3 linked regions of the Homo sapiens genome follow. The protein of the gene in region 3 interacts with the protein of the main gene of each other region in a pairwise test. Each region holds a gene or a part of one and is shown on either strand. Other genes may lie near its edges. The genes, in order: SAG, OAS2 and CLK3.

Evidence for each region.
Region 1: the proteins of CLK3 (region 3) and SAG interact in binary tests that used the Homo sapiens proteins (3 or more experiments, as listed by UniProt).
Region 2: the proteins of CLK3 (region 3) and OAS2 interact in binary tests that used the Homo sapiens proteins (3 or more experiments, as listed by UniProt).

What each region holds. Positions count from the first base shown.
Region 1 is NC_000002.12:233,307,841-233,319,365, reverse strand, and holds part of SAG (S-arrestin), read right to left. Parts: 5' UTR 11,344-11,525; intron 10,205-11,343; 5' UTR 10,177-10,204; coding exon 10,102-10,176; intron 3,292-10,101; coding exon 3,231-3,291; intron 616-3,230; coding exon 571-615; intron 1-570. UniProt on the Homo sapiens protein: Binds to photoactivated, phosphorylated RHO and terminates RHO signaling via G-proteins by competing with G-proteins for the same binding site on RHO. May play a role in preventing light-dependent degeneration of retinal photoreceptor cells.
Region 2 is NC_000012.12:113,000,488-113,012,012, reverse strand, and holds the end of OAS2 (2'-5'-oligoadenylate synthase 2), read right to left. Parts: intron 9,082-11,525; coding exon 8,911-9,081; intron 7,080-8,910; coding exon 6,791-7,079; intron 5,601-6,790; coding exon 5,413-5,600; intron 4,309-5,412; coding exon 4,070-4,308; intron 2,927-4,069; coding exon 2,758-2,926; 3' UTR 1,640-2,757; coding exon of another isoform or gene 1,529-1,639; 3' UTR 290-1,528; downstream 1-289.
Region 3 is NC_000015.10:74,623,684-74,633,074, reverse strand, and holds the end of CLK3 (dual specificity protein kinase CLK3), read right to left. Parts: intron 8,174-9,391; coding exon 8,057-8,173; intron 7,274-8,056; coding exon 7,107-7,273; intron 5,724-7,106; coding exon 5,629-5,723; intron 5,537-5,628; coding exon 5,407-5,536; intron 5,106-5,406; coding exon 5,023-5,105; intron 4,472-5,022; coding exon 4,392-4,471; intron 4,134-4,391; coding exon 4,043-4,133; intron 3,369-4,042; coding exon 3,192-3,368; 3' UTR 2,874-3,191; downstream 1-2,873. Other genes in the region: EDC3 (enhancer of mRNA-decapping protein 3), read left to right, coding at 129-463. UniProt on the Homo sapiens protein: Dual specificity kinase acting on both serine/threonine and tyrosine-containing substrates. Phosphorylates serine- and arginine-rich (SR) proteins of the spliceosomal complex.

The sequences.
Region 1 (11,525 bases), on a different chromosome or scaffold from region 3:
GGGCGCCGTGACACTGGTTCAGAACCATCGAAGTAAGCACCATAATAAATTCTGGGTCTTACTCCCCCTGCCCCCAGCAGGCATCATTTCCCCCTTTTTGGTGTTGGTTGAGAATTTTGCCTGTCAGCCCCAACGGTAACTGCCCCTCGCCACTGACTCAGAAGAAACACTGCCCACTCACTCGCCCCTCATTCATTCAAGGTCTTGTGTCCTCCTGAGTCCTAGGCACCCCAGGCACCCTCCTGAGTTTGCCCCTAGCACAGAAGTACATGAAACAGGGGCGAGCAAACAGGAATGGGGGCCACAGACCTGGGCTCCGTCTACCATCTACTTATCTGCCACCCTGGACAATGACTTTGCTGAGCGAGTGAGCTCTGGTGTCAACAGGACCTATGTCACGTGAATTAGGTACAGGAGTGTGGGTCAGTGGGCCTGGCACTGGTTCCATGTGCAAGAGCGCTGCCTCTGCCTTCCTGTCTCTCCTTCCATGTAAATGCCCCTTCCCAGAGCCGCCCAGAGAGCAGTCCACTCCGCCCAGAAACCAGCCTGAGACAAGGGGCTTCATCTCACCTTTCTTTCCCTTCACAAGATCAGGATCAACCAACACGACACCATCTAAGGCAAAAGAGGGAGAGAGCAGTGAGGGTGGAGAAGATGAAAGAAACCAGACACCTACTTTAAAAACTGCGCATGTTTTTAATTACACATGTAATCCATGTTCATTATAAGAAAGAAAGAAAAGTCAGGCAAAGGGAAAAAAGTCATCCAAATTCCTACTGCCTGAAAATACCTATTGTGAAGATCTTGGTGCAGATTTTTATTTTATTTTTCCAGGTCAGGTGTGGTGGCCCATGCCTGTAATCCCAGTACTTTGGGAGGCCAAGGCAGGAGGACTGCTCGAGCCTAGGAGTTCGAGAGCAGCCTGAGCAACATAGTGAGATCCTTGTCTCTACAAAAAGTTTTTAAAAAAAATTAGCCAGCAGCCTGGGTAACAAAATGAGAGCCTGTCTCTATAAAAAAACAAAAAAAAAAAATTAGCTGGGTGTGGTGGTACATGCCTGTAGTCCCAACTACTCAGGAGGCTGAGGCAGGAGGATCCCTTGAGCCCGGGAAGTCAAGGCTGCAGTGAGCCATGATCATGCCACTGCACTCCAGCCTGGGTAATAGAGCCAGACCTTTTCTCAAAACATACAAAAAAGAAAAAAGAAAAAAAGTTAGCAGGGCATGGGCCAGGTGCGGTGGTGCATGCCTGTGGTCCCAGCTATGTGAGAGGCTGAGGTAGGGGGAATTCCTAAACCTGGGAGGTTGAGGCTGCAGTGAGCTGTGACTGTGCCACTGCACTCCAGCCTGGGTGATAGAGACACTGTCCCACACCCCCGACAAAAAAAATTTTTTTCCAGACATATATAACTTAATTATACGAATGCTTTTACTAAGTAAAGAAAAAGATCCTATTGTACATACTGTTCAGCTAACTGCTTTCCTCACTCAATTATACATTGCAAACATCTATTCATACTCACATACATACATCTATACACACACGTATATATATACACACACACACATATAGAGAAAACGTGCTAATCATTTTAATAGCTATGTATTACTCCATTGAATGGATGTACCATAAATTATTTAATCACTTCCTATTGTTAGGGCATCTAGGTTGTTTCCAATTTTTCCCATTGTAATTAATATTGTGATGAACATCCTTATACATATGTCTTTATATCTCTCCATGACTTTTTAAAAATAAATTATAGAATTGGATTTGGCTTTTGATAACATGCTGCCAAATAACCTTCCAGAAAGTGTTTTGCCAAGGCACATTTGCATATCCAGTGTCTGAAACTGCCAGTTTTTCTACACTCTTTAAAAGACGTTTTGTGTTGAAATGATTATAGATTCACAGGAAGTTGCAAAGATAGTACAGAGACGTCCCTAGTATCCTTCATCCAGTTTCTCCCAATGGTTCCATCTGCCATAATTACAGTACAATATCAAAACTAGGAAGCTGACGTGGGACATTCTGAGAAACATTTTGGTTCTTTCCGGTTTGGAGCTACCACAAATAAAGCTGCTGTGAACAATCATGTATAGGTTTTTGTGAGGACACAAGTTTTCATTTCTCTGAGATAAGTGCCCGGGATGCAACTGTTGGGTCATATGGTAAGTATGTGTTTCATGTTTTAAGAAGCTGCTGCTGGGTGCAGTGGCTCACGCCTGTAATCTCAGCACTTTGGGAGGCTAAGGCAGGCAGATCACTTGAGCTCAGGAGTTCAAGACCAGCCTGGGTAACATGGCAAAACTCCATCTCTGCAAAAAATACAAAAATTAGCCAGGCGTGGTGGCACATGCCTGTAGTCTCAGCTACTTGGGAGGCTGAGGTCGGAGGATCGCTTGGGCCCAGGAGGTGGAGGTTGCAGTGAGCCAAGATCTCGCCACTACATTGAAAGTAATGGCAAAAAACTGCAATTACTTTTGCACCAACCTAAAATATTTTAGCCATTTTGGTAGGTGTATAATATGCTCTCACTGTAGCTTTAATCTGTATTTCCCTAGTGGCTAATGATACCAAAGATGTTTTCATGTGCTTGCTTGTCTTCATGTATCTTCTTTGATGAAATGTATCTTCCTGTCTTTCCCCCATTTTCTCATAGGATCTTGCTTTTTGTACTGCTGAGTTCTGAGCGTTCTTCATACATTCCAGACATGAGTCCTTTGTCTCTTCACACTCTTTAAAATTCTTTCCAGCCGGACACAGTGGCTCATGCCTGTAATCCCAGCACTTTGGGAGGCCGAGGCGGGCGGATCACCTGAGGTCAGGAGTTTGAGACCAGCCTGGCCAACATGGTGAAACCCCATCTCTACTAAAAATACAAAATTAGCTGGGCGTGGTGATGCATTCCTGTAATCCCAGCTATTTGGGAGGCTGAGGCAGAAGAATCACTTGAACCCAGGAGGCAGAGGTTGCAGTGAGCCAAGATCATGCCACTGCACTCCAGCCCGGCCAACAAGAATGAAACTCCATCTCAAAAAAATAAAAATAAAAATAAAAATAAAAATAAATAAAATTGTTTCCAATCAGCCAGTGGCGCCTCACTGATGTTTTAATTTGCATGTCTTTATTTAGATTATTAGCAAGGCCAGTTTTTAAAAACACAAAGTGAGCGGTTATCTGTGACTTAAAGGAAAACCAGCATTACAGTTTTCTCCAAGCAACTTACCCACAGGCTGGACTTGGCTGACATGGTCTATGTAGTCTCTGTTCCCCAGGTAGATGGTCACCTGCAAGAAGAACAGGTGTGGGTCTAAGGGCCAAAGAATGCTAAGCTAAGGCATCCATGATAAAAACCAGCAGCAGCCCGGGCGCGGTGGCTCACACCTGTAATCTTAGCACTTTGGGAGGCCAAGGCGGGCGGATCACGAGGTCAGGAGTTTGAGCCTGGCCAATATGGTGAAACCCTGTCTCTACTAAAAAAAAATATAAAAATTAGCTGGGCGTGGTGGCACGCGCCTGTAGTCCCAGCTACTCAAGAGGCTGAGGCAGGAGAATCAGTTAAACCTGGGAGGCGGAGGTTGCAGTGAGCCAAGAGCACGCCACTGCACTCCAGCCTGGGCAACAGAGTGAGACTCCGTCTCAAAAAAAAAAAAAAGAAAGAAAGAAAATTATGTAAATGAGACTTTTGCCATCCATTTGCATGTTAAATCTTTTATTTCCAGCTGTGGAATGAAAGGTAGCCCCTCTTTGTCACAAGAACTTCTGGACAGGCTGGGTGTGGTGGCTCACCCCTGTAATCCCAGCACTTTGGGAGGCTGAGGCGGGCGGATCACCTGAGGTCGGGAGTTTGAGACCAGCCTGGCCAACATGACGAAACCCTGTCTCTACTAAAAACACAAAAATTAGCTGGGCATGATGGTATACGCCTGTAATTCCAGCTACTCGAGAGATTGAGGCAGGAGAGTTGCTTGAGCCTAGGAGGTGGAGGTTGCAGTGAGCAGAGATCGTTCCACTGCACTCCAGCCTGGGTGACAGAGCAAGACTCTGTCTCAAAAAAAAAAAAAAAAAAAAAAAAAAAAAGAACTTCTGGACAACGCAAAGAGGTGTGAGTTCTGGAGAAGCCCCTGAAATCCCACCAGGTGAACTACTGCACAGGTAGACCTAAAGCCACGCACTGAGGGAGCTGGGTGGGAAGGGGATGGCCATCATCTGGGCCCACAGGCCCTGGCCCTGTCCTGCCCCTGGCAACGAAGGTCTCTACCCACTTATGGGAGAGCAGGGTTGGGTTTCCCAGCCCTCAGCACTTTAATCCATAGGACTGTGGCTTGGTGGTAGTAATCTGGAGTCTCTGCACATCTTTAAGCATCTACTGCAGAGTCTAGGACACACAGGGATTCAGTGTTTGCCAAGTGCACCAATGAATGAGAGTACACTCTTTCATTGAGTGTGGCCCCCTTGGCTGGCCCCCTTCTTCGAATGAATATTTTGAATTCCAGGAACGGCCTAAATCATTTTTGTTGGCATTAAGTCCTCTCCTATACGCTCCCCTTTCACCCATATCAGATGTCCCGAAGCGTAGCCCTGTGCCCTCTAGGTTACTCGCATGAATGATGCTGAAGTGACTTCCAGCAAATACCACTAGAACCCTGGTTTACAGAGAAGATTCCGTAGGAAACCTTATACTCCCAGCGCTAAGCATGTTTGGGAGGCCTCACTAGCCTGGGTGGTGTGGAAGCCTGGCACCTGTGAGCAGCGGGCTGACCGGGACACACACTGCTACCTGCTGGTTGCTGCAGCGAGTCCCAGCTTCCTAAACACTGTGGGTGTCTTGGCCTTGCCCTCAAGATCCACCCTGCGGGGCTGACCAGGGCGTGTTGCCCTAGTAGATTCCCTGGTCTTCTGGCTTCTGGGCAAGGTGGGCCAGATGTTTGTCCCCACCTTGCCTGCATGGTGGCTGGGCCTGCGGCTGGCACAGCCCTCTAGTGGGGATCACAGTTCCTGGGAGGTAGCCCTGAGGGCCTCGGGGTTCTGAGAATTGTGCGATCCCTCATCCCTTAACCCCAGGGAGGTGCCAGCACCCAGCTGCTCGTCACTGCCGTGTGGCGCATGGAGCTCTTTCTTGTAATTTTTTTTTTTTTTTGAGACAAGGTCTCATTCTGTCGCCCAGGCTGGAGTGCAGTGGCACTATCTCAGCTCACTGCAACCCCTGCTTCCCAGGATCAAGTGATCCTCTCACCTCAGCCTCCCAGGTAGCTGGGACTACAGATGCACGCCACCATGCCCAGCTAATTTTTTATATTTTTTTGTAGAGACAGGGTCTCGCCATGTTGCCCAGGCTGGTCTCAAACTCCTGGGCTCAAGCAATCCACCCACCTCGGCCTTCCAGAGTGCTGGGATTACAGGCATGAGCCACCACTGTACCTGGCTATTTCTTGTGATTTCTTTCACACCTGCCTACACCCTAGCAAACAGCCCCTTTTAAAAACTCTCCTCTGGCCAGGTACAGTGGCTCATGCCTGTAATCCCAACACTGAGAGACCAAGGTGGGAAGGATCACCTGAAGTCAGGAGTTCAAGCCAGGGCAACAAAGTGATACCCCCTCCTCTGTCCCCTGCCATCTCTCAAAAAAAAAAAAAAAAAAAAAAAGATTAGCCCGGGCAAGGTGGTGCCTGCTTGTAGTCTCAACTACTTGGGAAGCTGAGGAAGGAGGATCACTTGAGCCTAGGAGGTTGAGGCTGCAGTGAGCTACGATCGTACCATTGTACTCCAACCCTGCTCTCCCACAAAGGGGGTAAAGAGATCTTCACTGGTCTCCAGAGTAAGACCCTGTCTCAAAAAAAAAAAAATTCTCCCCAAATCAACCAATTTGGAGGCTGCCTTGCAGGAATGGTAACTATGACCTCGCTATTCTGCTGCTCAGTGTCTACTGGCTGCTCACTCCTTCTCTGTGGAATAAACCCCAGCGCCTTGTGCGTGGCCACCCTGAGAGCATCCTCTCTAACAGCTCCACTCTTCCCTGGGCTCTGGCCACAGCGGCTCTGCCACAGCTCCCCCAAACACCACAGATTTGTGCCTCTGTTCCTATTGTTTCCACGGTAAGGAAGGCCCTTCTGCTGCACTTTCACCTGGGGGAAATCCTACCCACGCTTCAGGGGACACCTCACGGTCCCCATCTCTCCCTTTGCCCAGCACCCCCTGGCTTTTGGTGCCCCGGGAGCATGTGGCCTGCGACCACACCTCAGTGTGCAGCACACTGTGTTCTGGGTGCTCTTGCAGGAGCCTGTCTCCTTTGCTAGACTTCGCCTGTCAATTAGGCAAATACTGCTTTCATCTATCCCACACACGGTTACAGAGGCCCCAGCAGCTGCTGGCTACTGAAAATAAAAACCGAAGAAGACATCCCCTTGGTCCCCAAGGTCCCTGCTCTTTGGTTGGGAGCCCAGCAAGTGAACTGGCAATTGTGCCCCTGGAATAAATGCCAGGGCAAAGGCTGGTGGGGAGGAAGCCTGAGGGGAGGGCACTGAGGAGGGAAGGAGAGAGGGAAGGCTCTTGCTTTCAGAGGAGGCTCTACCTGGTGGACAAATGGCATAGCCAGAGGACAGGGGACGGTTGAGGGCATGCTCTCTGAGCAAAATGTATACGAAGCCCGGGGCCCCGAGAATGCTTCTGGAACTGCCAATGGCTTCACCATGCCACTGAATGGGGATGCAGGCTGCTGCTGCTGAAATGGTCTCATAGGACGTGGCCCTAAAGAACCTCAGAAGACGTTGAAGCGTTTTAAGCAGGATGAAAGACTTGAATTAAACAGTATTTAGGAAAGCTAAATAGAGAAATAGCTTTTGGAAGAATTAAATAGCATTTCGAGTGCTTATCATGTATCAGGGGCCAAGCTAAGCACTTTGACCACATGGTTTCACTTAATCCTCACAGCAACTCAATGAGACAGGAATGCAGCCCATTTTATAGAAGGGAGCACTGAGATTTAGCTCATGCCAGCAGCAAACTGGAGAATGGATCGGCAAGGGGAGAACCAGTTAGGCAGCCTGACTGTGGAGCTGATGAGGGGGACTGCAGAGTGGACGGGAGAGACAAGGGCAGGTGAAGAGAGGGCATGTTTCTTCTCTTTCAAAAGGTTTGGCTGCAAGGGAAGAAGAACTAGAAAGGATATAGGGTCGAGGGTAGTTGGTGGTTGTTCTTAAGGTGCATGAGGTCGGTACTTATTTGTTTATTTATTTGAGACAGAGTTTCGCTCTTGTTGCCCAGGCTGGAGTGCAATGGCGCGATCTCGGCTCACTGCAAACTCCACCTCCCAGGTTCAAGCGATTCTCCTGCCTCAGCCTCCCGAGTAGCTGGGATTACAGGCATGCACCACCACGCCCGGCTAATTTTTGTATTTTTAGTAGAGACAGGGTTTCTCCATGTTGGCCAGGCTGGTCTCGAACTCCTGACCTCAGGTGATCCACCTGCCTTGGCCTCCCAAAGTGCTGGGATTACAGGCATAAACCACCGCGCCTGGCTGGTACTTATTTTTATGCTCAGACAAAGTACTAGCAGAGAGGAGAGGCTGCACACACAGCCAGACCAATGACTGAGGCCCCTGAGAAGGTGGCCAACCATGAAACCCAGGGTGTAAGAGGTGGTGAACCTCAGATGGGAGCAAACTACCCCTTCCACTGCAACAGGAAGGACAGGGGCAGGATGGGGGCAGGTAGAGAAGTGGGTGATGTGAGACTGTAGCCAGCCTTCGGGGGCCCATCCAACAGCCACACACCCCTTCTTCCTGGATAAAAGCCGCCAACTATTGTTCAGGGACCACCATCTTCCACCAGGCGGTATGCTCAGAGGAGGCCGGCTCCAGGGTACGATTCTTGATTGGCCTGATTCACTACGATCATCTAATTCTTCTGGCTTGGGATTGGTTTACAGTGGACATGTGACCCAGTTTTGGCCAATGAGATATGAGAGAAGAGTCTTGGGAAAGATTTCCTGACCCTTACAAGAGACCCCAGGAAACCACAGCCTCTTCCTTCTGGATGTTGTCAAGTGTGGGTGAGACGCCAGGAGCAGGGGCAGTCATTTAGCCACCTGCTGGAGGATGAAGGTCAAAGAAGAGGGCAGCGTCGGGAGAATCACAGAGAAATGGGCTCAGAGCCCTGGCACACCATGCCTGGGGCCACACAGACATCGCTGGCAAAATGATCTGAATACATGAGACAGGAATTGAATTCTCTTTTCCCACCTGTGAGGACTTATCTACAAAAACCATCTACATTTCTTGGTGGAAAATCTAGGAGCAAGGGGAAAACAACGTGGGAAACCAACACGAGTGGTTTCCTCTTCAGCCAGAAGTTGAGATAAAATGGACTGGAAAGATACAACTTGGGAAAGGGCTTGGAGAACGAAAGAATCAGAGTACTTGATTAAAATGACCGAGTTCCTTAACTAGGAGAGGAGAAGGCAGAAAGCACACAGGCAAAGCCGGATCTCCTGGGTGGCACGGTAAGGATGGGGAGGTTCTTTGGACCCCATACCGGGTTCAGAAGTCAGCCACAATGGGCCAGGTGCGGTGGCTCACACCTGTAATCTCAGCACTTGGGGAGGCCAAGATGGGCGGATCACCTGAGGTCAGGAGTTCGAGACCAGCTTGGCCAACATGGTGAAACCCTGTCTCTACTAAAAATACAAAAATTAGCTGGGCGCGGTGGCACATGCCTGTAGTCCCAGCTACTAGGGAGGCCGAGGCAGAATTGCTTGAACCTGGGAGGCAGAGGTTGCAGTGAGCTGAGATCACGCCACTGCACTCCAGCCTCGGTGACAGAGTGAGACTCTGTCTCAAAAAAAAAAAAAAAAAAAAAGCCAGAATGATGGCGAGCTACCCTGTCCAGTAGGGTAGCCACTGCTTAAGGTGGCTCCCGGACACCTGAAATATGGCCATTCCAAATTGACATGTTCTGTAAACATAAAATACACATCAGATTTCAATAATTCTTATATTATTATTTACAAGTTGAACTGATAGTTTTTTGGATATAGTGGGCTGAAATAAAATATAACATCAAAATGAATTTCACCTGTTTCTTCTTACTTTTTAAATGTGGCTACTAGAAAATTTAAAATTACATATGTGGCTTGCACTAGATGTTGCTGAGCTAGATTTTTGGCCCACAAGAAGCTTTCGAGTGGAGCTATCCACAGAGGCTGGACGGTGGACCCTCTCCCATGCGAGGAAGTTCATGGGCACACCTGGAGCATCTAACGTGCCCCTGGAGAGTGGTGGAAAGGGGGCAGACTGGGGCATTTTCCCTTATCCAATGGCCCTGCGGGCCCAGCTGAGGCTTGAGACCCCCCGGGTGGGGTAGGTGCACGGAGAAGAAGGAGTCACATTGATCACTGTCTGGGTTTTACCCAGGCAGGTGACACAATAGATAGACAAAAGGCCAAGGGCATCACAGGTACTGACAAAACTGTGTTTAAATAGTAAGTCAAGGGTTCAAGGCTGGCTAGGAAAAGATGCAGAGGTGGGGGTGACAGTGTGGGGATTGAGGGATTCGGAGAAAACTGAGGGACACAGGACTAAAGTCTTGATGAGACTGAAGAGAAGCTCTATTTCTGCAGTTCATTCACTCATTTATAGCTCAGTGATCATCCATCTTAGACAGAGACAAAAATAGACACAAAGCTTCCCTGGCCCTCACAGTGTTTGTTTGTTTTTTATTTGAGACAGAGTCTCCCTCTGCTACCCAGGCTAGAGTGCAGTGGCACCATCTGGGCTCACTGCAACCTGTACCTCCTGGGTTCAAGTGATTCTTGTGCCTCAGCCTCCCAAGTCTGGGATTACAGGTGCCTGCCACCATACCCAGCTAATTTTTGTATTTTTAGTAGAGATGGGTTTTGCCATGTTGGCCAGGCTGGTCTCGAACTCCTGGCCTCAAGTTATCCCGCCTCCGCCTCCCAAAGTGCTGGGATTACAGGCATGAGCCACCGCGCCCTGGCCCTCAAAGAGTTTTGATGTTGATCATGACTACACTGTACTTGAAAAAGCTCCATTTTTTTTAAACAATAATTTCTATCAAATCACTCACTTGTGCACCACTCACCGATTTGTCCCGGGAGATCTTCTTGAAGATAACATGGTTCGGTTCGGACTTGCTGGTCTTCCCGCTGGCTGCCATGTTATCTGTCCCTGGCAACTTCTACCACCTTGGGGTGTTGGTCAGGTGTTAGAGGGTTGGAGAAAGGTAAGACAATCCTAAATATCAAGTCAAGAACATCCTAGTTATGAAACCTACTCACGAGATCCTGTGCGTCCTCACCATGCCCTTGTACCGGCTTCAACATCCGAGTTTCATCGGTGAGTCTTTGCTTAGTTTGTATTTTACTGCAGCATGCTTTGGGGTGTTTTCAATATTTTATTTTTCTTGGTAAGCTTCAAACATTTCTCAGTACACCTTGCCAGGGAGTCTAGCTAGATTCCAATGAGGTTTTACTTTCTGACTAACCTTTGGTGTTATCACACTTAGCCAGGTTGAATTTAAAGTTCTATCGTGACTGTGTCTAATGGCGAATAAATCAGAAAAGTTCCTGAAAACCACAACATAACCACTTCGCAAAGACTGTTTTCAAGAAGATATTAATGGCCGGGCACTGTGGCTCACACCTGTCATCTCAACATTCTGGGAGGCTGAAGCGAGAGGATCATTTGAAACCAGGAGTTGGAGACTGGCCTGGGCAACATAGCAAGATCCTATCACTTTTTTTAAAAAAAAAGAATATATTAAAATCCCAAAAGTTCTATTTGGCAATTCCTACTAAGAGATAGCCACTCTGTTTTACAATTAAGAGGCCATCTTAGCGGTCTAGAATTAAGCATACTCTGAGGTTTTTTTTTTTTTTAAGATATAGGAGCTCGTTCTGTTGCCCAGGCTGGAGGGCAGTGCCACAATCATAGCTCACCGCAGCCTCGAACTCCTGGGCTCGTGATCCTCCTGCCTCAGCCAGCTGAGTAGCCAGGACTACAGGTGTGTGACACCATGCCTAGCTAATTTATTTTTATTTTTGTTTTTTTGTAGAGACTGGGTCTGACTGTATTGCTCAAGTTGGTCTCGAATTCCTGGCTTCAAGTGATCCTCCAGCCTCAGCCTCCTGAGTCACTGGGACTATAGGCATGAGCCATTGCACCCGCTCACTCCAAGTCTCCTTAAATAGCAACCAAGTCTTATGGAAACCACACAGAAAAGGTGAAGGCGGGACATACTGTCTGCAGGAAAACGCCCATCCTTGCTCTTCCCCACACCTGCCCCAGGTTTCTGATAAGGTTTTGGCCTGTGGTGGTCACATACCTTGTGATTTGTCACCAACCAGGTGGGAAGGGCCGGGTGGCAAGGAGAGGGTCTCTATGCTCTGAGATGATGAATAGCCAGCCCCTGTTCTGAGCAAGCTGGTACCGTCTTGCCAGATGAGCCTGAAGGGGCACCGCTGAGGCTCCTGGCCTACGTATGTGGGGAATTTGTAGGGGATCTAG
Region 2 (11,525 bases), on a different chromosome or scaffold from region 3:
GCCTGCATCCTGGACAAGAGTAGTGGTGCATTCCAACACCTAATCTGTGACACCAGCTGACTGTCCTGCAATTTAAGTCAAGTCTGGCACTGACTACCTGGAATGTGTGTAGATCCCACAATTTAAAGAGCAAGGTCCTCACCAAGTCCACCCTTCTTTCAGACTCCAGCCATACATGGGGTCCCCAGGCTACCCACACCTCTGTCCGACTTGGTTACAAACTTGGGAGTTTCCATGACTTTCCTTCAGTTTTGATAATTTGCAGAATGACTCATAGAACTCAGGAAAATGCTCTACTTACAATCACCATTTTATTATAAAGAATACAAATGAAGAGCCAGACAAAGAGTATGTAGGGTGGCAAGCACTGGAAGGGCCCAGAGCTCAGGAGCCTTTGTCCCTGTGGAATCAAGATGCGCTACCTTCCTAGTACATTGGAATGTCTGCCAATCAGGAAGCTCCCCAAGCCTCACTGTCCAGAGTTTTTATTGGGGTTTCTTTACATAGGCAGCATTGCTTAAATCACTGGCCATGTTAAAATTGAACTCAATTTCCAGCCCCATCACCTCCTTGGAGATTGGGGGTGGGATGGGGCTGAAAATTCCAATGCTTTAACCACATGCTTGGTCTTTCTGGCTTGGCCAACTCCTTCCTTGAAACTAAGGGCCCACCATGGGTAACCTTGTTAGCATAAACCCAGGCATGGGTGAAAAGGGCTTGTTATGAATACAAAAGACACTCCTATCAGGAAACTCTAGAATTTTTGAAGCTGTGTGCTAGGAACTAGGCACAAAATCCAGATACATTCTTTATTGTATCACAACTGGTATATGCAACAGTGATAAAAGTTTAAGTGAGGGTATGTGAGGTTAAAGCACCTAGACCTTCAAGTATCTTTAAGGCTAAAGCCCAAGGAAAAAGTCTTTTGATTTGGCAAGAGGATACTCCTGGGTGGGGGGGAGAAAGGCAGGCTCAGAAGGAAAAGACAACAGCCTCATATAAATATGACAACAGTTATAATCTGAGCCTTTGGAGAGCTTGAAGTTCTAATGAAAGGGTTGGCTGGCTGCTGGCATAGAGGATGTCTGTGTCAGCAGGGGCAGAAAGGGTTTTGTATACAGAGGAAACAGACAGGACGTGGATGAGTTGGAAGCACCGAGAGCAAGATCACAGAGTTATGAGAACCAAGGGGAAAGTAAAGAGCTTTGCTTTGAAGACACAGAGGATTCCTTTTTTAGACTGGAAGGAAAAAGGAGGAGCTAATTGGAAAAATACAAGAAAAAAAATACAAGTTGACAGAAATAAGATGCACATAAAGTGGATGACAGCAACTATTTTTAAAGGCAGGCTGCCTGCAGAGAGGGAGTTCAGCAAGGCAAGACTTTATGAAAGGGTTTGCAGTCTTGATTGATTTCAAGAAGTCCAAGAAGCAAGGGAAGGAGGAATAGGGACCATCAAGGGAAGAATGGATGTGAGTGACTCTTTCTCACGGTGAGCCGAGTCTTTAAAAGCGATTGCCAGATGATCTCTAGAAGTTTCTTTTAGAATTATTATTCAGGATTCTATGGCTTCTGGATGAGAACATCTCATTGACAATAGGATGGATCCTAGCTCCACAACTTCCTGGTGTCTGCATTGTCTAAAAAGAAAAACATACGTGGGAGAGCAATGTCTCCTAATAGTTACAATCATTGCTTAAAAGAGTTAGGGGAAAAAAGGGGGGACCTGTATCTGGGAAGGTAACTATTGCCAGAGACAATTTTTTGGTATTTATTTATAATGCATATCTTAATAATTAGAGCTAACCCCACGGTTGGCTTGGCCACCTCTTCCCTACATTCCCCCCAGGGTTGGGGTGTAGGGTTCCTCTAGTGCAAGGGTTCTCACCTAGGGCAGAAGACACATGATAAAGTCTCAAGACACTTTTAATTGTCACAACTGGGTGGCATCTACTGGGTACAGGCCAGAGATGCTGCTCAACATCCTACAATGCACAAGAGAGCCTCCAAACAAAGAACTGTCTAGCCCCAAATGTGAGTAAGTATCAAAGTTGAGAAATCCTGCTTTAAAGAAAGAACCTGGTGGAGAGAACCAAGTATATCTGGAGGGAGGATATCCTGGTGGAATATATCAGGTATATCTTGGTAGGTAGGGAGGGCTTTGGAGAGGTGTGGCAGACATCCTTGGGTGGCCAGTGCAACCCACGTCCACAGTCATCTTTGTAGCCACCTTCAAGTTACAGGTAGCCACATGACATTTCTGAGCAATGAAATGGAAGAAAATTTGCGGATGAAACTTCTAATAAAATCACTGTGTTCTTGACCTTTGGGTATCTTTTCCTTCTTCCTGCTTGGATTGCAAACCTGCCATCTGGAGGCACCGTGGCCGCTTTCAGGGCCATAAGTACTCAAATTAACAGCTAAAGAGGGTGGAGCCAAAAGCCAAAGGCAGAAAGATCTGTGAACCCAGGGGAACGTTTGACAATGTCTGAAGACTTTTGGTTGTCACTGGGAGAGGAGGGCTAGTGGCATCTACTGGGTAGAGACTAGGGATGCTGCGCAGCACCCTACAGTGCATGAATCTGGGGTTACCTGCCTGAGGATCACTTGTAGTGGGGGCTTAGGGGGCTGACCAGCTGTTTAAGCTCCTGTGAGCTGGGTTTCCTTTATTTGTGTCTGAGTTAATTTCAGGTTGCTACAGTAGGAGAAGTTCTTTGATTCAAGCCTGTTACAGGGCTATTTCCAGACAACGCCTCCTTTAGATGACTTTTACCGGCACTTTCCAAGGTGGTATTGGGTTTCCAGTCCCATCCTTGAAGCAGGGAGAGGATAACCATTCCTTTGCTTCTTTTGCCAGAAGATGCCAACACCAACGGTCCCCTCCACCCACGTCACCTGTGGGTTCGGCTGGGTCCAAGATCACAGGCCTGAATGAGAGGTTAGAAGGCATTAGGAGATTCCAAATCCCAGTGACTTCAGAATTTGGGGTCCATCCTATAATACTTTCAGCAATAAGACAATGTGTTCTTACAGCTTAGATGTCAGCAACTCAAATTTACTAGTAGGGTTCAAAGTAACTTTCTAGAGGCCGCGTGCAGTGGCTCATGCCTGTAATCCCAGCACTTTGGGAGGCTGAAGTGGGAGGATCACTTGAGGGCCAGGAGTTCGAGAACATCCTGGCCAACATGCAGAAACCCCATCTCTACTAAAAATACAAAAATTAGCTGGGCGTGGTGGTGCGCACCTGTAGTCCCAGCTACTTCGGAGGCTGAGGCAGGAGAACCAGCTTGAACCCGGGAGGCAGAGGTTGCAGTGAGCTGAGATTGTGCCACTGCACTCCAGCCTGGGTGACAGAGTGAGGCTCTGTCTCAAAAACAAAAACAAAAGCCAAAACCAAAGCAACTTCCTAGAATTAAATTGTATTTGCCAAAAGCGTTTTGAAAGCTGTTAATTGCTATACTCATGAAGGCATAATGAAGGCATAGTCTAAATATCTCCTCCTTGCTATGTCAGCTAAAATATGATACATAATTTAATCAAATACAATGTTGCCAAGAACCCAGGGTAGGCAACCCACCGGGGGTCTCCTTCTCTCTTACTTCTCCTCTATTCTTTTTCAACGCTCCTTTATTTTCTCTCTTTCCTTTCCTCTGGTTTCCATTGTTTTTGTCCCTTGCTGGTGGCCCTAAGCAGATGGATATGATTTCTTACTATTCTTGAAGGTCTGAAAGAGTAGATAAACCCTAACCCAATAAAAACCCTGCAGGATAAATCGGCCCGTGAATGATAGCGTTAATTCTTAGGGACACACTTCCAACTCTAACACCTCTTAGATGAAAGCAGCTCAGGGACGTGGTATCTTGAACCTTCCTTCTCTATTTTTTCTGAACAGCATTTTCTCCTGCCCCTGCTAGGTTTTATCCCTGGAGACTGTGACAGGTTCTGTTGGCTAGCACTTTCCCCCGTCATGCAAGGAATGAATCGTGACCCCAGCAGAGGAAAATCCAGGTTGCTGAGACAGTGTTCAAGGGAATCAGGTTAAGAAAAGTACGGGGCTAGGGTGAAGGCACCTGGTTTTCTGCAACTGGCTCAGTAGAAACTTCCTCACGGTCTCATCTTCAAAGTTGTAATTGACCTTCCAGAAGATGCAGAGCTGCTGATATTGTGTGACCAGCTCCAGGACTGTCCGGAAACCTTCTGCAGTGTCAAAATCCGGCACTCCACTCCCCTGCTCCCAGGCATAGATGGTGAGCAGCTCCAAGGCATACTTTGGGGGCAAAGACCCCTTTGGCTTCAGTTTCCTTTCACACTAGGTAAGAGTGGGAACATCAGACGAACTGGTTAGCCTAGGAGCTCAGTGAGAGCCGCACAGGGACCACAGCAAGGCAACTGAGTCACAGTGTCGTGCTGGTGTGCTCACACTCTGCAGCTTGGATGTCTAAATTGTACAGCCTACAGGAGTCCACCTGGCAGCAGCACATTTGAGTTTCTTTGTTGTGCTTTTGACCATATATGCCTTCCTAGGACAATAACATAGCTACAGTTTACTAGAAACCCACTGCATGCCAGCTATGGGCCCAGGCATTTACCCACATCATTCCTAATCTTCCCCACAATGCAGGCAGCATGACCTGCATTTTAGATGAAGACTTTGAAGCTGCGGGAAGTGGAGTGACTCACTCAAGGTCACGCCACAGCCCCAAGTCTTCTGACACGCCATGCCAGCTCTCTGATTTTCTGGGATGAAAACTACAGAGTTTGGTCTTGGTTTCACATTTCAGGGAGCTGGACACAGAAAGGAGGCATCTCAGGAAGAGCTGATATCGTGCTTGATGTTTACTGTCATGAGGATGTTCAGAAGCTACTTTGTGTGCAAGTGAGGGGAAACTGGGTAGAGACTAGGGATGCTGCTCAGCACCCTACAGTGCATGAATCTGGGGTTACCTGCCTGAGGATCACTTGTAGTAGGGGCTCAGGGGCTGACCAGTTGTTCAAGCTCCTGTGAGCTGGGTGTATAGAAAATGCAGCCCCGGTTCCACCTACAGCTTCAACCTGCCTTCTGAGAGAGAGCATGTGCGCCGGGAAGCAGAAAAGTCCTATTGGCAATGTGTGGGCATGTGAATCCCAGCTTCCACCCACCCTCTGTAGGCAAGGTCACTTGGATTCCTGCAGAATTCTTTGGCCAGTGTGAGGGCAAAGTAAACCACATGTAGCAGCTTTGATGGGCAGAAGCCATCAACGCCTGACCCAAATGAATAGGGTTAGTGATGGGAACGTCGTAAAGATATCCAGTGGGCAGATTCTCCAAAGTGGCTCAGCCCTCAGCATGGGAGATTGTGGGCAACAGGGCTTAATGTTCATGGCTTACTGGTAAAAATAATAACCCCATGGTCAGAACAAAGACTGTCCTTACCTCTTTGTACCAGTGCTTCACCAGGCGAATTAAATCCTTTAGTTTGGTGGGCCGGGAGCGAATGAAGTTTCGCTGCAGGACTGTGAAACAGGTAGAAAACTCTCCTCCCGGGAGGTCCGAGGATTTATACAGATCAATGAGCCCTGCATAAACCTCGGGGCTGGGTGTGGAGCCAGAACTCAGCTGACCTGGCATGAGGGAGAGATTGACATCCTGCTTTAATACACATAGTAAGTAACAGATTCCAAAACATTTTTGACAAATATGATTTAATTCTTGGAAATTACTGTGAATAGTATTAGCATATTTAAAAGACTGATGTCTAAGACACAGGGAGCATCTCCAGAATAATGAGATATGTAAAAATTATGTGGTCTACACAGGTGCAGCTGGTATTATTAAAGTATTATCTAGACTTAAACTAACAGAGCAGCCACCAGCAATGTGGCCATTTGCACTCACATTCATTAAAGGGAATGAAAATTAAAAATTTAGTTCCTCAGTTGCTGTAGCCACATGTCAAGCTCTCAGTAGTTGTAGAACCCAGACATAGAACATTTTCATGATCACAGAAAGATCTCTGGGACGACACTGATCTGGACTTTGTGAACTACCGCCCCCTGGGCTAAATCTGGTGCGCTGCTTCTTGTTTTTTTTTTTTTTTTTTTTTTTTTTTTTTTTTGTTGTTGTTGTTGTTTTTTGCTTTTTTGAGACAGAGTTTTGCTCTGTTGCCCCAGACTGGAGTGCAGTGGCATGATCACAGCTCACTGCAGCCTCCATCTCCTGGGCTCAAGCAATCCTCCCACCTCAGCCTCCTGGGTATCTGGGACTACAGGCGTGTGCCACCATGCCTGGCTAACTTTGTTTATTATTTATTTATTTATTTATTTATTTATTTTTGGGATGAAGTCTCACTATGTTGCCCAGGCTGGTCTCGAACTCCTGGATCAAGCAATCTTCCCGCCTCGGCCTCCCAAGATACTGGGATTACAGGTGTGAGCCTCTATGCCCAGCCCAACTGCTTGTTTTGTTTGTGTGTTTGTTTGTTTGTTTTCAGACGGAGTCTCACTCTGTTACCCAGGCTGGAGTGCAGTGGCACGATCTCGCACTGCAACCTCCACCTCCCGGGTTCAAGCAATTCTCCTGCCTCAGTCTCCCTGATTACTGGGATTATAGGCACACAGCCCCATGCTTGGAAAAGAGAAATGGGACCAAAATTGTCTACAAGTGTGAAGTATTACTGCCATGACTAATGCCACTTGCTGGGGCCAGGGACCCATGAGTGGCACATGTTTTCAGAGCCCGTAATCAAGTCACGTGGCTCTCCCTCCACCTTCTGTCCACCATCACTTCCAAGCTAAGGTCTGGGGAGCCTTACCCAGTGCATTAAAGGCAGGAAGCACATCAAAGCTGACACTTTCGTTGAGGACTTTGGATTTCAGAGAGAAGCTCAGCACCCTGGGAGCCTTCCACTTGGGAGGCTCAAAGCTGACTTCAAGCTCCTCCTCCTTCTCCCTCCAAAAGGCTTTCAGCTGTTCATGGATTTCCTTGACGATTTTGTGCCGCTCGTTTTTTTGGGAGGTGTAGCTTTTAAGTGAGTTATGGAACACGACGAGATCGGCATCAGAGCCAGTCTTCAGAGCTGTGCCTTTGGCGGTTGATCCTCCCTAAGGAAGAAAGGAAGGTTGAGATCCAGAATTTCCTTAACCGAGGAGTCCCGTGCCCCCGTGGGCTGGCACCAGTTGGGCTAACTGACACTGTTTCCAAGGCCAAGTTCTGCGTTAGGGTTCAGTGAGGGCTGAGTCCAAAGCAAAGGGTTTTCTTTTACAAACTAATAGATAATGCAGTTATTAAACAATACAGTTCCCAAGGCAATTATTCTCCTGCCTTTTATACATGAACAACTGATGGGCTAGTTACAAGTTACCTGCTTCTCAGGTCAATTTCCTAAAGATTTTCCTAAAGACATATTTAGCTTTATTTGGATTCCTGTAACCAAATAAATCGAGCGGAATGCAATAATTATGGTGAAGGTGCTCATCTGTTCTTTGATGTGTGTTTTCTCCTGCAGGTCTGGCGATCATTGGGTGAATATCCATAATTGAGGTACAGGGTTGGTAAACTTTCTGCAAAAGGGCCAGATAGTAGGTATTTTAGGCTTTGTGGGCTATTTATGTCTCTGCCATTAAGGCTTCTCCCTTCCCTCCCTCCTCCTCTTCCTCCTCTTTCTCCTCCATTTAGTTTCTGTAGAGAAAAATGTTTTATTTTATCCATGGGTATTAAATGCCTGATTACATGGGTTAAGGAGGTGAGGAAAGGGTATGTTCTATTTCCTGTATGCAGATCCTCAATTCATCCCTGTTCCAGCCCCCTTCATTCATGCAGGCCACCTTTGTCTTTAAGAGGTGGGCTTCGGCGGCTCCTCTCAGACTGTAGCCCCTTCCTTACAATCTCTAGGTGTCACCTTCCTCTGGCCTAAGCAGAGAAACCTTCAACCAACTTCAGGAAGATGGAAAGCAATGTCTTATCTGCCGATGGCTCTCTTTTCTTCTTTGATGTGTCATATACCTTTTATTTTTCACTGACTATCATGTGAATGGGGTTTCAGGAAGGAGAGGAGAAAGCACATGCTTTGACAATTCTAACACTGATCAGAAACTCAGTCCTGTTTTCACTCCAGTGACCTTCAATGAGACAGTTCACTCATTGCCCTGGGGCTATTGGTGCCATTTCCCAGGCCCCTCTTCTCTAGTTGCACAGATTTGTTCTGGCATCAACGCAGAAATTTACGCGTACATAATAACATTTTCCTCCTTCCCTTCTTGTGACCACGGGGACACGTTTATCTGGTCGTGTGACCAGTAAACAGAGAGAAACATGTCAGCCCCGTGGCCTTTGAGCCACGGACAAGAATGACAAAAGCCTCTAAATCTCTAGCTCAGCTGATGGGGCAAGCCGGGCTCCAGTCACTCAAAGGAGAAGGAGATTCTAAGCTCCTTAGAATCTGCAGTGGGTTCAATGGTGGACCCCTAAAAATACATGCTCTGGGGGCCTGTGGATGTGCCCTTATTTGGAAAAAGGGTCTTCGCAGATGTAACTGAGTTAAGGACCTGGAGATGAGATCATTCTGGATCAGGCTGGGCCCTAAATCCTATGACAAGTGTTCTTAGAAAAGAAGAGAAGGGGGAGGACACAGAAGAAAAGGTGATGACAGAGGCAGAGACGGGAGTGATGTGTCTCCAGGCCCAAGAGCCCCAAGGACGGCCAACAGCTCCAAGAAAAACAATACAGAATCAAAGTTGTGTTGTTAATGACCTAGGCAGTCTATCCACAACCCCCCTGAAAACTAGTGTCCTAGTTCCCTTAACTCCTGGCTTCCCTTCCTCAAGTTTCTGAAGGTAGATGGATCCTGGAGAGCTACAATGCCCACTTACCTCCCTTCCAGGAATGCCCAATATTACATCATTCCAACAAGACATGAGAAAGGCCAGTGCTCACCCGGACAATCTGGATCTTGGCTGTTGATTGTCGGAAGCAGTTTTCTTTAAGGAATGTACGGATGATGTTAACAGCACTGTCAATCTGCTCTAGGAAGCATTTGTTGGGCTGGAGAAACTCCTTGATGAACTTATCCAGAAGGTGGCCTGGGGTCGTGAAGAGTGGTGCAGGCTGGGGAAGGAAGGAAGACCCCAAGTGTGAGTGGCACCTGTAAGCCCACCCAAGGCTTCTTTTCCTGCCTGTACTGGGCCCCCTACCCTGCCTCTCCCAACTGCCCTCCTGCTCGTGGGCTGGCATCTTTTCCGTCTTTTGTCATTGCACAAATACATCCCAAGAACACACCTGAGAGTTTGGAGTGGCACACAAGACCCCCCACAGACACAAAAACTGTCCTAGTTGCCCCTCCTTCCCCCTAGGAGAGATCTGGATCCTTGTCCAGACAGATCTGTCGTGTTCCTAACTCCAAACTCCTTTTCCATGCCCAGTTGGAGCATCACTTCCTAATGACCTGTGGCTTTTTGCTTTACCTACACCTCTGGTCCTTCCCTGTCTTCCCATTTGCTGTAGGTATTGGAGATTGCTGATGACCACATCCATTCCTTTCTTAAGGTTGTATCAGCCTGCGTTAAACACGCCATGTGCGGGTGTGTTGGTTTCCAAAGGCTGCCATAACAAGTGACCACAACTAGGTGGCTTAAAACAACAGAAGTTTATTCTCTCCCAGTTCTGGAGGCCAACAGTTCAAAGTCCAGGTTTTGGCACAGCTGTGCTCCCTCTGAAGCACACGTGGTTAAGTCTCTAGAGATGGGAGGATTATTCTGCATTACCTGGTTTGGCCTGATGTTATCACAGGGGTCTTTTTCCTCTTAATTTTAATTTTTAATTGAATTAATTAATACATTTTTCTCCACTTTTACTTTAGGTTCAAGGAGGTACATGTGTGGGGTTTTACATGGGTAAATTGCATGTCGCTGAGGCTTGGTGTATGAATGATCCCATCACCTAGGTAGTGAGCATAGAACCCAACAGGTAGCCTTCCAACCCATGATTCTAACCCATGTTTTTTCAGAAATAGTGTCTCGCTCTGTCACCCAAGCTGGGGGGCAGTGGTGCCATTATAGCTCACTGCAGTCTCCAATTCCTGGGCTCAAGGGATCCTCCAGCCTCAGTCTCCTGAGTAGCTGGGACTACAGGTTTGTGCCACCACGCCTAGCTTTTTTTTTTTTTTTTTTTTTTTTTGTAGAGATGGGAGTCTCACTAGGTTCCCCAGGCTGGTCTCAAACTCTTGGTCTTAAGCAATCCTCCCACCTCAGCCTCTCAAAGTGCTGTAATTACAGGCGTGAGCCACTGTGCTTATAAGGACAAGGGTACTTATAAGATGGAGGCAGGAGGGTTAGAGTTGGAGTGTGGTGGTGTTGGAGTTAGAGTTAGGTGGTGTGATGTTGGAAGTAGAGAGAGAGGCTGGAAGATGCTATGCTATTGGCTTTGAAGATGGAGGAAGGGGCCATGAGCCAAGAAATTTGGACAACCTCAAGGAGCTTGAAAAGGTGAGGAAGCATATATATGTATATATATATATGTGTATATATATATGTGTATAGATGTGTATATATATGTGTATATATGTGTATATATGTATATATGTGTATATATGTATATATGTGTATATATATGTGCATATATGTGTATATATGTATATATGTGTATATATATGTGTATATGTGTGTGTGTATATATATGTATATATATATTTTTTGGTTGGTGCAAAAGTAATTTTGAGACAGGGTCTTGTTCTGTCACCCAGGCTGAATGCAGTGGCACAATCATGGCTCACTGCAACCTTGATCTCCCTTGCTCAAGTGATCGTCCTGCCTCAGCCTCCCAACTAGCTGGGACTACAGCTAATTTATTTATTTATTTTTGTAGAGACGGGGTATTGTTATGTTGCTCAGGCTGGTCTCAAACTCCTGTTCTCAAGTGATCCTCCCGCCTCAGCCTCCCAAAGTGTTGGGATTACAGGTGTGAGCCACTGTGCCTGGCTCAAATTCATGTGTTTTAAGCCACTAAGTTTAGGGCATTTTTTTAAAACAGCAGTAAGAGGCAAGTAATTACTGTTCTATACAAATATTGTACTTTTGCTGGCAACACAGACAAGATGGGCTAGCTCACCTGGAGGTGGGGAAGGGCACTCAGCTTGAAAGTTGAAGGCCAACCTTGGTTGTTCTCAGATGTTGTAAGTTGGCCTTATAGTTGCTGAGGACGGTGCCTATTGAAGGAATATTCATTGCCAACACTGCCCCTTCCACAGGGCAGAATATTTGTGGTGTGTGAGTGCATATGTGTGCGTGGTATGAGTGCATGTGTGTGCATGTGTGTGAGTGCATGTGTGTGCATGGTGTGCATGCATGTGTGTGCATGAGTGCATGTGTGCATGTGTGTGAGTGCATGTGTGTGCATGGTGTGAGTACGTGTGTGCATGTGTGTGAGTGCATGTATGCATGTGTGTATGCATGTATGTGTGTGCGTGTGTGCGTGTGTGCATGGTGTGAGTACATGTGTGTGCATGTGTGAGTGTGTGTGTGCATGTTTGTGTATGCATGTACGTGTGTGTGTGT
Region 3 (9,391 bases):
GCCTTTGGAGAGGCATTCGAGTGGTGTCTGGAAAACAAAGACACCCTTGGGGTGACCTGGGCCCTAGTCCCAGCCTGGGCTGCTCTCTGCTCATAGGGACTTTCAGATGGCACTCTTTCCACCTGCAGATCTGCCCACTAGCCCTGTGGACCTGGTCATCAACTGCCTGGATTGCCCTGAGAACGTCTTCCTGCGCGATCAACCCTGGTACAAGGCAGCTGTGGCCTGGGCCAACCAGAACCGGGCACCAGTACTCAGCATAGACCCTCCTGTGCATGAAGTCGAACAGGGCATTGATGCCAAATGGTCACTGGCACTGGGCCTGCCTCTGCCACTGGGGGAGCACGCAGGCCGTATCTATTTGTGCGACATTGGCATTCCCCAGCAGGTCTTCCAGGAGGTGGGCATCAACTACCACTCGCCCTTTGGCTGCAAGTTTGTTATCCCACTGCACTCTGCTTAGAGGGTTCCTGCGCAGGCAGGACTCTGCTGTCCCCTGCTGCTCCTGATAACAAACGCCTTAAGGATATGAAGCTTCATGGACCTTGTTAAAGTTTTTTCTCTTTTGGGTTTGTTTCTTCTGTGAGAGAACAGAACTTACTTAAAACTGACCTGTCACTTGCTCTTAGCCAGGGAAGTCTTTCCCACTGGGTTCCGGGCTGGGTGGCAGGCTGAGCGTGCAGCAACTCCAGGCATCTCTACCCTCAGCCCCCTGCACGGCCAGGTGGGCCTTTGTTTACAGCCGTAGGCAGCTCTCAAGACTGTGTTTCAGGTTTACAGCCACTGGGCCTGGGCACACACATTGAAGAGTGGGCCAGGTCCTGTCTGGGGGCCTGTACCTGCTCTATTTCAGAGCTTGTGGCTTTGTGTCTCCCCTGCTTTCCCCACGCAGACAGCCCTTCCTCTGTAGAACCAGCTGCACGGCAGCTGTCCACCAGAGGGCAGACCTGCACTCTCCATTCATGTCCAGGGCTGTGACAGACCAGGCCTTCCCCTAGCCCCACAAGTTGATTTGGGGGGTTTTGACCCTTACTCCTGAGCTGATCCAAGTTTTATGCTGATTTTTCCAAGGATCTCTCCCTCCTTTTCCCTCCATCACTCAGAGGTAGGGAAGGGGGCGGCATTAGGATGGTGTTACTGTATTGGGATTTTATGTTGTTCTGTCGTCTTCAGCACAGGTAGTATAAGGTTATATTACTGTAGAACCACAGTGCCCATCTTGCCAGCAGTGCCCGCCCCCACCCTCAAAGCTGAGCAGGTTGAGCCTTTGCCTAGTCTGGGGCCAGACCCCTCAGATGGGGATATCCCTGGGGGAGCCTGGTGCTGAACCAGAAGAGGCTTCCTGGTGCTTCTGTCCTAGGCCACCACTCCTCCAGCCCTTTGCCCGCACATACATGCCCCACCTACTCTTTCATCCCCTCTGCCCTTCCCCTGAAACGGTCCTTTGCAGCTGTCATCCCAGAGCAGGCAGATGGGCTCCCGTGCTTGAGCTCCACCCCAGCTCTTACATCATCTGGGCTTTGAACCTTTTACATTTGTCCAGTCTAGATGAGTAGGCTTGGGGCCAGCACCCTGTCTCAAAGATGGCAAAATGAGGCTAGTTCTGGATGAGCTAGCTGGTGTGGGTTCCAACCATAGGAACACACTGATGCTCAAATCCTAAGGTGCCAAGCTCTAGGCCCTGGAGGCTGGTAGAACAGGATCTATGCCTGGAATCCTGGCAGGGATTCCTGTCAAGGACTTGTGTTTAAGCCTGCTTCAGGGCTTCAGGCTGCTTCTGCTCTGTGTCTGCCCAGGCTGGCTGAGCGGGTGGATGGGTGGACAGAAGGGCTCACCAAGGATTGTGGACATAGGGTAGGCCCTGGTACCACGGGTTTCAGGCTGTTATCACTTCCCTTGTAGGAACATAGCCAGAAGCAGATGAGCCAGGGTAGAGGGCTGGCCCCTCCTCTCATCTTCCCTTCAGTCTTAAATTGTCTCCAGCGATGGGAAGAGGCCAGGGACTGTAACCCTTGTGCTGTGTATTCTCTGAGCCTCTGCTCACTCTCAGGGCCAAGCAGCTCCCAAGCCGGGGCCCTCTCTTGGCCAAAATCTGAGGAGCAGTCTAGGTTACAGGCTTTTTGGTAGGTAGGTTCTGGCTGCCTGTTAATGCAGTTAGGCCCCCTGATTAGGTACAGTGAGAAACAAGCTAGAACAACCCTGGCCCAGAAGACTGTCCACTCCAGCAAGATCCAGGGATGATAGCCTTGCAGGGCCACTGGGAGTTTGTGCCCAAGCTTCTCCCTCTTCTCTCCCCAGGGGGCACTGGGACTGGTCCCTGCCCTCATCCTTAGCCTGGGCCTTCCCCAGAGGTATTAAAGAGAAGTATGATTCCTCTGTCTTCAGTTCTTTTCAGGGGCATCCTGCCCATAGTACCCAGTTCCCAAGGGGCCCCCAGTCACGTGGTGAAGCCTAGCACTCATGCAGCTCTTAGGGAACCAAAAACCAGCACTGAAATAAAGCTGAATGACTGACTGAGTCCTGTGCCGTGTGACTTGCTCTGTAGGCTGTCATGAGGTGCTGTCTGTCCCAGCCTAGGAACCCGCCCCACTCGTCTCCTGCCCTCAGCAGGCCATAGTTGTTGGGCACATACAGCCTAAAGTCCTGGCCAGTAATGGGACTGGCAGGCTGTGGAAAACCAGACCCCACCTGGCTAGCCACGGTGGGCTGATTCCCTTAGGTTCTCTGGGGCTGAGAGGTACAGAAGCCAGCAGGGCAGAGGTGCCATCTAGGACTGCTCAGCAGCCTGGGCCCAGAGGATGTCCCCAATTCTGGTCTTACCCCTGCCTAGCTCTTCTGTGCCTGGCCCAGTTCACACTTAGCTCTCCACAAGCTGAACTGCTAAGAAAGACTTTATTAATAAGGTCAGGTAAGGGGAAGGCAAGGAGCCTGGAGATGGACACACTGGTACCAGGGGTTACAAACAGTAAGAAACACTTTATTATAACTTTATAACATATAAATAGCTTGGGTCAAATCTGTGCTTTCTGGCAGCTGGGCACCAAGTCTGCTCCCCTGCAGGCTCCTGCCTTCCTTCACATTGCACTGTTCATTGGGTGGCTCTGGCCTGGGGCCTGGCGGTCGAGGCTGGAGTCAAGGGGCTGGGCGGCCCAGTCCCGCCCTCCATCTCCTCATGCGGTGGCCTGTGCCTGTCATCTGCTTGGGTTGCGGCTGGTGTGGAAGGACCGCTCCTCAGGGGTCAGGCCAGCAAAGAAGGGGTGCAGCAGGGCCTCGGCCAGTGTGATGCGCTGGGCAGGGTCAAATTCTAACATCCTCCTCATCAGGTCAAACAGCTGCACGTGCTCCAGGGAGTCTTGGAGCATGTAACTCTGCTCAGGGACACAAGGTGCCTCAGTGTGACGGCAGGGTCGTGGGAAGCCACAGCAGGTCCCCTTGCCTCTGGGACGCCTTGCTGGACTGGATCGAGGAGGCAGTGATGCCTCCTTGGAGGACTCTACTTCCGCCCTCCTGGACAATGAGCAGCTCCTTTCCTTTCATGCCTGTTTAACGTTTTGCTCGGAACTTGCCAGGCTACTAGGTGTCTTGCTGGGTTGATGCCTCTGCCCCCACATGCAAAGTCCTGACAGGTGGGTAGAGATCACCTCTGCGAAATTCACTTGTCCGAGCACCAAATGCAGTTGACAGAGGCTTCCTGGCCATGTCTAGGTCTTCCCTCCCCCTCACCTCAGTCCTGCCTAGTTCTTCCCAAAATTTCGAGGAGAGAGAGGGACAGGAAGCAGCAGGGCTTCTGACATCTGGCTCTTCTGGTGTTCCCCAATTACATTCATAGCCACCCTATGGGGAAGGGGTAGGGCTAAGGGCCCCTCTGGGGCAGTTTGCAAGAAGCCCCATTGCCAGCACCCAGCAGTCTTGGGTGCCGCCTCCCATAGAGCTGGATCAAGGAGGCAGCCTTTAGCGGCCTGGCCTGTCTCTGCTGTATGTCTGCCCAGTGCCTGGGGTCTCTCCTTGGCATGAGTTCAGCTGGGGGTAGCCAGAAACTGACCTTCAGAGGTTTGCAGTTCTCCTTCACATACCGGCCGTCAGAGCTGTTCTCATCCCAAACTAGGCCCCCTTTGTAGAAATATTTCTGCTTCCTGAAAATTAAGGGGGTGGAGTCAAGTGTGGGAGTAGTAAGGGGACAAGCCTCTGGTGGGAGGTGGGGAAGAGCAGCTCCCAAGACAGCAGCAGAACCAGGGCAACAGGTCTGCAGGGGCACACAGGGAAGGCTTTTAGGAGCCTGCGGAACCATGGACTGTCCAGCAAAGACTCACCACATCCAGTACCCTGCTGACCCACAGCCAAGAAGAGAAAGGCCTCTATACCAACCCTGAGGGGGCTACTGGGGTCCTTACCTGGTACGGTGGATCATGTGTGATGGGATGGGCCCTAGGATCTTCTCCATCATCACCAGGTGCTCTCGGTTTTCGTGGGTCTGTGGAAGATTAGGGACAGTGCAAGGGGGTCAGTACTAGCTCTGGCCCCTTCAAGGAGAAAAAGGAACAAGAAAGATGGGCAAGTGCCCTCACTGCCCCAGGACATGCAAACCTACCAATGAAGCGGCAGCCCCAGCTTCTCCTGCCAGCCTGTGCCTAGGCTCCTCAGCCCTTGTGGGTGGAGGTGGACTGGGCTGTGACTACATTTCTCTCTGGTTAGCTCTTCACTCCCTGCCCAGAACATGCCCTGTCCCAGCCCATCCCGATGCCTTTAGTCATCTGTGCCCCTTATCTAGAAGGTCAGGTCACCTCCTACCCCATCCTCCATCCTCGATGGCCTAGCATAAGACTCCTCTGAGTGTTCCAGCTACCCTGACCTCTGCCTTCCCTTTAGCATCTACATCCTTAAAGGGTCTGAATCTCACATGATGATTAGTGGGAGGAGGAAGACACCTGTCTTCTCATCCATGTGGGGCTTCCCACCCCAGTGGCCTGCAGCCTATCACAGTAGCAGTACTCAGGGTAGGGGACCAATGCAGGGTGGCTGTACCTGGAAGAGTGTGAAGCCCCGGTAGTACTCAAAGAGAATGCAGCCAATGCTCCAGACGTCACAGGGCTGTGCCCAGCCCAGCTCTGCAAGCCAAGATGGGGAGAGGCTGTGAGATCCGGCCTTATGCTTCCAGCCTGGAAGTCACAAGGCAGCCACCACACCGGCTGGCAGGACTCTTGCCCAAATCCCAGTACGAGGCCCTCTCTCAGTAAGGCTGACAGATAAAGCCAGGTCAGTCACCTGTGTCTCATGACACTGGCCCCTTGGTCTGAGAAACTCTGCCTGCCCTGGGTGGCAGAGAATGACAGGCATGCCACTGCCTCTGCTCATACCCTCCCAACAACAGTCCAGTATGACAAGGTCACAGGCCATACAGTCACTCACCAAGGATCACCTCAGGCGGGCGATAGTGACGGGTGGCCACAATGGTGGTGTGGTGCTCATGGTCAAATGTGGCACTGCCAAAGTCAGCCACTCGGATGCTGGTGTTCTTCACTGACTTCTCCTCACAGCTCTGAAAGGCAAGGCAGGCCTGCCAGGTCAGGAGTCTGCACCAGCGGGTAACCCACCCCTGAAACAGGGCCTCACCCTTACCCCCACCAATACCTTGTGCTCATTGTAGAGGGTTTCAAACTCAGAATTCACAAACAGGATGTTCTCTGGTTTCAAGTCTGTATGGGTCAGCTGATTCTCATGCAGAACTAAGGTAGCAGGGAAAGAAGGGGAAGTAGGCACTGAGAAGCTGGCTCTCCTGCCAGCTCTAGGCCAGACCCCTCTTCCAATGCCAGCAACTGCCAGAGGTCCTCACACCCCCACCTCAGCAGGGAGCTGGACTACAGCCTGCCTCTGTGCTGGCCTCCCTCTCAAGGGTTCTCTGTACTTGAGGCCTTGGAGGGTTCTGATACTTTAGCAGGGGGGTAGGAAAGAAATTTGCCATTCGAAAAACCTCCCTCCACCTCTCCTCTGCAGAGACCAGGCCTCCTCACCTGTCTCTCAGCAGAGCTACAGCAACAGCCTCGAGGTGGTTCCCTCTTCCCTGCACCAGCTACATAATTTGCAGGGCCCTTTGCAAAATGAAAATGCAGGTCCCCTGTTCAAGTTACTAAGAATATTAAGGTGGTGGCAAAAGGACATTAAATCAAGCACAGGGTCCTGTGCGACTGAGTGCACAGGTCGCATACCCAGGAAGACAGCCCCGCCTCTCATTGCTAGTCATAAGCAGGCAAGCCTTTCCCCTCCAGCCCCTTCTGACAGTGGCTTCTTGCTAGTAGTCACTTTTCAGCTCAAGGATCCCATCTGGCACTCAAGACCCTCACAACTATGTGGCCCACCACTCCCCAGTGGCAGTCTACTCCACTGGAGCCAATTCTCAGCCCGTTAACAGGCTCCAGGCCTCACCAAGCTGTTCCCCTTGCTTGGAATCCTTGTCCCTGTCCCATCTTGCAGATCCTGTGGGAGGAGGAAGACACCTGTCTTCTCATCCATGTGGGGCTTCCCACCCCAGTGGCCTGCAGCCTATCACAGTAGCAGTGCTCAGGGTAGGGGAGCGATGCGGGGTGACCTTGAGCGATTCTAGCTCAACGCCTACCAACTTCACCAAGGAGCCTTTCTGTACTGCTGCAACCATTGCAAATCCTACTGCGCTGAGCCCTGGCACTGCCAAATAATGCTTTTCCAGGCTGGCAGGGAGATGACAAGTCAGGGTTAGACCGAGGGTCTCCATGTGGGCAGGACCTGTGGTGCTATCTGTCAGGTCAGGCTTCTACCTTTTTATCCCATGCATGAAGCAGGGAGGCAGGGTTGGTGGTTAGGCCAATTCCAGAGCAGTTCGTTTCTGTTTTCTTCCTGAGTGCCTGGGGGTAGAGAGGCTGGTCCAGGAGGTCCCTGGAGGGAGCCCTAGCCTTTCCATCCTCACACTGAGATTCCCACCCAAAGACAGGCCTTTCCGCCAAAGGGGATCTGGTGTCCCTCAGGCCCAGGAGAATGGTTAGTAACGTGCTGGAATGAATGGGGACAACAAGTAACCAGATGACTTGGCTGCAGGCATGTGGCTGCCCATGCTTCTTTTGAGGGTGGACACTTACATCTAAGGGCGTGGCAGAGCTGGTAGGCCATGTGCCGGACATGTGGTAGGGGGTAAGGCTGGAAGTTATTCTCCTTCAGGAACTCAAAGGTGTTCTTGCCCAGGAGCTCAAAGGCGATGCACATGTGACCGTGGAAGTTGAACCAGTCAGACATCAAGACACACAGGCTGGAGGAGGAGGATGGGCAGGGCTCAGGCTGTGTGCTGGGGGCCTGCCTCACCCCCTCTCTCAGATGAAGACAGTTCCCAACTCTCTCCTAGGCCACCGGGTCACACACCAGAATGCAGATACACACAGTGCAAGAGAAATCAGAGCAAGAGCACCTCTCCCCACCAGCCATCACCCAATACCCAGATGAGCTCTGGGCAAGGACTAAGCTTCCTGCGGGGGGTAGGGGAGATGTCCACGGTTCTGGTCCAAGCCCTCCGAGCTTCCCTACTTATGATATGGAAGCAGCCCTGCCTCAGAGTTGCTGAGGGAGAGATGGAAAGTGCTAGTGCACTCCGCAGGACTGGTGCTGCTTTTCTCCACTTGCTCACTCTGCTGAGCTTCGTGAGGGTCTGTGCTGGATTCACCCATCTGCCCAGGCTCAGCACAGTGCGTGGAGGAGAGTGCTCAGTGTGTCTGCCACAGAAAGGCCCTCCTTTGGGTATCTCCTACTATGTGAGAGCCCCAACTTCATGTTTTTATCTTGTTTTATGCCCAGCATAACCCAGTGAGCTCCCCAATTCACAAAACGCAGGGCTGGGAGGCCTTCCTCAGGACACAGAGACAGCTGGGGTGAAGACTGGACTGCAGTCTAAAGGCTTCCAGCAAGACCTTTGCCACACTCCCCTGGTTCTGAGTGTGGGGAGAAGGCACAGTGCGGATGGGTGAAGGCACACTACTAAGCCCCTGGGGGTCCAGCAGCCCCACTGAAGGCTTCCCTCCCACTCCTTGCAGATACTCACAACTTGTTTTCTTTGTCCTTCTCCTTGATTTTTTTGAGCACGTTGATTTCTAGCCGGGCAGCCTCCCGGTACTTGCCCACGTTGCGGATGATCTTCAGGGCAACCTGAGACTTCCCTCTGGTACCCGGGAAGGAAACAGAGGTTCTCATCAGCAGCTGCCCAGTCCTTCCCCAACCCTCCACCCCAACCCAGCAACTCCCAACAAACACCACTCCAGGAGCAGCCGGCACTGAAGAGAGCAGATACTGGATGCCCAGCCTGCCCCATGCAACACCAGACCTTTGCCCACCCAACAGCAAGCTCCCTGAGATCTGTGAGTTAATGCTCTTAGCATCCTTGCCATCCTTAGGCTTTTATGTTCTCAGCCACTGCCAGCTCCCAAAGGAGTGTGGGAGAGTAGAGGCCAATCCTGCTTAACCAGTGCCAGTCCAAGAGCTCACACAGTGACCTAACCTATAGGCCAGGCAGCCCCAACCCTGGCCAGGCTGTCCCACCGAGAACCCTCCTGCGGCGCCTCTTGACCTTCCTGAGCTTGTCTGCAAGTCTGAGCAAACAGGGATGGGGGTTCCAGGATCGAGTAAAGATCTGGCAAGAGGTAGGGGTACCAGCAAGGGTACCTCTCACTGTGAGGCCCAGGGCCACTCCCTTTACCACACCCCTCTCCAGCCGCACCTACCTGCCACAGTGTTTATCAGTGACCACAAAATGCCAGGAACCCTTCTTAAGTGTCCAAAGAAGGTTTTAACAGTCCCTGCTCTGTGCCTCCCACCCCCAACCTCACCCCAGGAGGCCATCTGCAGGGAGCCAGCAGAGAAGGAAACCTGCTGAGGCTCAACTGCCAGGCCCTGTCAGGAAAGGACAGCTAGAATTCAGATGCCCAGTGGGGAACGAGACAGTCCTAGCCTGGAAGGGCGTGTCCTCTGAGGCCTCAGGGAGGCTGACTGTGGTGCCTAAGGCTCACAGGCCCAGGATAAAGGGACCTTCTAGAGAATCCCCTGCTTTTTTCTCCCTACCTATTTTCCCAGATTCTCAGGGCAGGAAGGGACCTCAGGGGAAAGGCCATGCACTCCGGCCTCCTCCTAAAACAGGGTCCCTCCGTGGCATTCCAGTCCTCAGCACAGGGAGCTCATCACTTCCAAGGCAGCCCCTGTCAGAGTTGCACTGCTCTTAGAATAAGACCCTGCCTTTCGCTGAGCTGAATTCTGCCTCTGCATGACAACCCCCACTGGCCCTGGCTCCCTTTGAGTCCCGTAAAGTTTCCCTGGACCCTCCACCTGCCCCCTAGTGACTCCAGAGGCTCATTTTCCCTCCAGCTCCTGAGAGAGGAGCAGCCCA